Linked DNA regions of Homo sapiens: region 1 is linked to region 2. The links come from fine-mapping of genetic effects on gene expression. Tissue or cell type: skeletal muscle. Region 2 holds a variant in brackets; the other region holds the start of a gene. All regions are shown on one strand. Distances are between the middles of the regions.

What was found. PIP is the estimated chance that this variant, and not a neighbour inherited with it, causes the effect.
Region 1: CDCP1 starts here. The variant in region 2 is fine-mapped to the expression of CDCP1 in skeletal muscle (GTEx, PIP 0.96).

What each region holds. Positions count from the first base shown.
Region 1 is chr3:45,145,297-45,147,977 of GRCh38, forward strand. It overlaps CDCP1 (CUB domain containing protein 1), which reads right to left and starts at 1,082. Exons shown (of 9, transcript NM_022842.5): 1 at 910-1,082. The coding sequence starts at 991.
Region 2 is chr3:45,086,405-45,089,085 of GRCh38, forward strand. It overlaps CDCP1 (CUB domain containing protein 1), which reads right to left. Exons shown (of 9, transcript NM_022842.5): 8 at 2,650-2,681. Among named protein-coding and RNA genes, the nearest start is that of CDCP1, 59 kb to the right of the region's middle. The variant C/T (reference allele first, on the strand shown) is at 1,549.

The DNA of each region.
Region 1 (2,681 bases), 59 kb after region 2:
AAAAAACACAAAACCTGTACTAATCTCGCGAAACCTGTACTAGCCTCACATCAAGTTCTTACATGAAGAAACCAGGTTATTTACTACGTTCTAATACATCCAGGGCCCACAGGGCATTTCCTGGCTGGCACAGGTCACTGGGACGTGTTGGTCCCTTCCCCCAACCGAAACAACTCGAAATTCACACATATCCCCGGAACAACAGCCTCCTGCCCTCAAAGTCCACTGCCAAAAAGTGCGAGGGGCGCGGGAATGTCCAGTCTCTGCGGTGGCGCAGATGCCTGGCGGCTTTCTCTGGGACCCCCTAAAAGAAATCCGGGCGCTTTCATTTTTGCACCAACGCTCTTCAACTTTAGGAGAGGGGGAATGCAGCGTGCGGACGGGAAAAAGGGGATCTAGTGGGAAATGCGGACGTGAAAGCACTTTTTTTGCACCTTCTCTCTGGACCAGGCGAGGAGGTAGAGGGCGAGCCTGGAGAGGAAAGATCTCTTCCCACACCCTGCCTGGGTGCTTTCAAGAATCCCGGCAAAGACCCTGGGGCGCACGGCGCGCCACCTTGGACATGTCGCCTGGGATCGGCTACCGGGAGCTCCTTTTCCCGCCTTCTCGGCCAGCACCGGGCTCATCCTCCCGGACCGGGAGGCTCCCCGATCGGGGACACTCTCACGTGCCGAGGGCAAGGTTGACTCCAGGAGGGCAAGGCCCACGCGCCCGACGCGGCGCGCGCAGGAACCGAACAGTCCGGGGGTCCCGGAGCCACCCGCGCATTTTGACTACGCCGTCCCCGCCCTCTCTCCGCACCCTCCGCACCCTCCGCACCCTGCGTCCCTCGGCCGCATCTCCGCCGGGCGTCCGCTGGCTGGCTAGCTCACCACTCCACGCCATCCGCCTCCAAAGCCCGGCACTCACCTGCCCCGCGCGGCAGGCGCGCCGCACCCAGCAGCAGAACCCCTAGCAGTGCGATAGAGACCCCGCAGTTCAGGCCGGCCATGACTCCGGGACGCCTCGGCCTCGGTGGGGAAAACGACGGTGGGGAGCGGCGGCCCCAGGCGCCCAAGCCCGGCGCAGCTGCGCTCCGCCCTGGCTCACTCACCTGCGCGCGGGCGGACCGGCCCGAGCCCCGCCCTGCGCAGCAGGATCGCGAGCTGACCCGGTGCGTCCCTCCTCTCTCTCCTCCTCCTCTTCCTGCCTCAGCGACCGCCTCTCCCTCCCAGGGTGCAGGGCTCCCGGCACCGGGTTGCTGGGTCCCTACTACTCCCCATTGCGGCGTTGGAGCGGACTTGTCCCCACCTTTCCGGGCTTAGTCTTCCTTCCCAAGTCTGAGAATGATGAGGTCTTTTTCTCCAGAGTCGCGAAGGTCGCCCATAGAGGAAGCCAGTCTACCTTCCCTTTTCTGTCGAGGAGACAAAGGCCATTATGCGCCTCGTTTTGGAGAAGAATCCTATTTGTGGGCCACCCAAGCCCTGGATCCTCTGCTACTTGACTTGGGCCAGAGGTCTGTTGGACTTTAAAGCCGGTGGTGGTACAGCTAGTATTTGCAGGACGGTGAGCCTGCAGCCTACTCCACACACATCACCTGCAGTATTTCCAGACACGCAACGTGTCCAAGGTCCCCAGGGTAGCTAGTAAATTAGAGGCAGATGCACCACTTCGTTGAATTGTGAGTAGAGTAGTATGCATCCCTTCACTGAGCTGTGGATGGAGTAGTATGTGCCCTTCTCGAGTTGTATTATAAATGGAGTAGTGTGTGCAGTGTGAGCGTGAAGCATTCAGGTCAAACGTTGGGCTGGAAAATGAATGAAAAATGAATGGCGCTGGACTCCTTTTCCAAATCCTCCCAGCCGCAGGTGTGCCACCTGCCTGTCTTCAGAGGCCCTGTGGGTTCTCCTTCCACCCTGCCGGCCATACACCAAGTCCAGGCCACAGGCAGAGATTGCGGATGGTTCAGGAGTTCTTAGCTAGCAGACCTGGGTTCTGCCAGAATGACTCCCTGGGACTACTTGTGTTCATGGATAGCCAGAAGCTGGGCCAGAGTCACCCGGAGCAACCTGGGAGGCTTGGGACAGGAACCAAAGCATGTGCGACAGCATCAGTTTACAGTCCAGTCCCAACTTCTGCTTAATTCTTGCGGGCACTGAGCCTCTCCAGGCTGCCCCAATCCTCCTTGTGGACAGGGGTGGGAAATCATCTCCTAGGAGCGTCACCCCTTCCTTCTCGATGTCCTTAATCATGAGAATAGAGCTAGCTCTGCCCTCTGGGAGCCCACAGTCCATCGAGGGAGGCAGAACTTGGAACATGACCCTGCCCACACCCCCACCTCTGGGAGGGCCTGTATCGTGAGCTAAACGGGACCTTAGATGTAATCTTCTAGTCCACTTCTGTCCTTGTGCAGAAAAATGGGAAAACTGAGAACTAGAGGGAAGGGAGAGGATGAGAAACGAAGAGAGGCTCTTGGTTCTCCCCACTGAATCGAGGACAAATTCATCAAGAGAAAGAAATCTTGACAAAAATCTAAACAATCTTTAAAAATATTTATGCTGACCAGGAGGGTGAAAGGAGATTTGTCTTTTCTCCTGATTCTAAGCAGGCATATATATCCCAGCATCTTTTCCTAACATCCATGACACCATTGTTTCCCACATACAGTAATACCCACAACAGTACTAGAATGGCAGTGTATT
Region 2 (2,681 bases):
ATTCTACCAGAAATGGGCAGTGTCCCAGACCTTCTCAACCACATCAGGCTCAGTCATGCCTAGGTCAATCCTCCCGCACTCTTAGTACTTTCCCGTAGCTCATGCTTTATCTCTCTTTTGCCTGGGAAAAGCTCTGACCATCTAGATTTTAAATGGCGATACAAGAGACTCAGGAGGCCAGGTTGTATCTTAGTTTTCAGTATGAGCTGGGGAGAGGATAACTCAGCATTAGCAGAGAGACCCAGTGCCTCAGTAGTCACCCCCAACAGAGGAAAGAGCTAAAAAGAAGACAAAATTCAGGCTGCAGTGCCAGAGTTCTTCAATAACACCATTAGCATTTGGTTTATAATGTTCTTTGGTACTTGGACCTGCATGGGCATTAGCGCTTGCTGCCACAGAAAACAAAGCTTTGCTCTCCATCTTTGTGAACCAAACAGCAGGGAATGCTGACTTTTTAGCTGACCAGTGATGCAAATGGAGGACATTAGCTCAATTAGCGTAATGGGCCATATAAGGCACAGGCTGGCAGTTCATAATGGTGGACAGGCTGTCTGTACTTTGCTGAGATAAAAATAAACCTGGTACCTTCAGCTTGTAACGCTGAGCCCCTGGCCAGGAGGATGGGTTCCTAAGGCTCCTGCCTGAAGCCCTGTAATGTTTGTCCCCACTAAAGCTCTTCTCATGCTATCCTGAAACTGACTGTTTATTTGCCTGTCTTTTCAGTCCCCCTGCCCCCATAGAAGAGATTGTCTCACTCATCATTGTCCCCAGTACCTCAATGAATCCTAGTGCCCAGGAGACACTCAGGAAGTACCCGCTTAGTGAACATGTTAGATGGCATTGTCTCTCCTCATTCTCACTGCACAACCTGTCCATCCTCCTACAACAGCTTGGGCACGGACAGGCCTTATGCAAACCTGCCAGCCAGCAGCCTCACACAAGCAAGGCCTGTAGCAAGGCTGGACTGACGATTCTCAGGCTTAAACTGGCGCTGTTTCAAGATGAGGCAAGTGCTGGATCTCGTTCCTTGTCCAATTCCCTCCTGATAAGGAACCTGGGGCCCAGTGTTAATGCCATGCTTCCCCAACTGGGTGGGCTATTCCGTGCACCGCAGATGGGAAAATTCCCTGAGAGAAACAGTAACATGATGTTTCCTTAAAAGCAGTCCTTTTTCCCCCATGTGTTATAGGTACAGCCACTTCTCATGGGGAAAAGACCTCCTGCAAGCCAGTCCTTCCTCATCAGCAGAGACATTTGTAGACAGTCTTGTTGTAGACTAGGAATTTCAGTTCTTTGCTCAGGTCCACAGTTAATTTTTAAAAAAGAATTTTTTGGCTGGGTGTGGTGGCTCACGCCTGTAATCTCAGCACTTTGGGAGGCCGAGGCGGGTGGATCACAAGGTCAAGAGATCGAGACCATCCTGGCCAACATGGTGAAACCCTGTGTCTACTAAAAATACAAAAAAAAATTAGCTGGGCGTGGTGGCGGGTGCCTGTAGTCCCAGCTACTCGGGAGGCTGAGGCAGGGGAATCGCTTGAACCCGGGAGG[C/T]GGAGGTTGCGGTGAGCCGAGATCGCGCCACTGCACTCCAGCCTGGCAACAGAGTGAGACTCTGTCTTAAAAAAAAAAAGAATTTTTTCAGATTGGCTTTTTGGAAGGTCAAACCATGTTAAGGAAAATAGCTCTCTTCTCTCTCCCATGACTTTAGTCAGAAATATGAGCAGAATTTATACAGTTTGGCGGCAGCACGGACTCTGTCTAAAAAGGTCAACATTTTCCTTTTATAAAATAGAAGCTCAGCCAGGTACGGTGGCTCATGCCTGTAATCCCAACATTTTGGGAAGCCAAGGTGGGTGGATCACTTGAGGTCAGGCGTTTAAGACCAATCTGGCCAATAAGGTGAAATCCCGTTTCTACAAAAAAATACAAAAAAAATTAGCTGGGCGTGGTGGTGTGTGCCTGTAGTCCCAGTTACTCGGGAGGCTGAGGAAGGAGAATCACTTCAACCCAGGAGGCGGAGGCTGCAGTGAACCGAGATTGCACCACTGGCAACAGAGCAAGACTCTGTCTCAAAAATAAATAAATAAATAAATAAAACAGAAGTTGTCCTCCTGAGGGGATGGAAAGAGAGACTGAGGCAGTTAACTGGGCCTTCCTTCCTCTGGGCCACAGGCCTGGCCTCTGTTACATACCTGGAGCCCAACAGGCAAGGATAAAGCAGTTTGCTTAAGAAACTGCAGGAGAACAAGCTGGGACAACACACATTCGTTCTCCTTAGGGTGACGGAGGGAGTGGTTTCAGAGGCACAGTCTGGCAGAGCCTACGTGAGCATTTTCTTGCCAAGATCACTCCTGCTTGATCAATCTACTGAGCAAACAGCACTCTGCTTGCAGGGGACTTGTGCTGAGGCAGCTGCACCATGAACTACATACAGGTGAAAATGTCACGTGTGTTTTATCCCCCCCTCACCCCCAGGCATGGGATTTTTTTTCTCCTGAAAGCATGACTCACACCTGGCAATATTGTTTAACATTGATCTTTGGGGGAAAAAATGGGAAGCAAGAAAACAAAGTCAATAATGAACAATCCACCCAGTCTGTGTGATCTGAGGAGGCATCAAATCAGATAAAGAGAGTAAGAGATTCCACCTACTTCTTTTTCACACAGCAAATGATGAGCCCGAG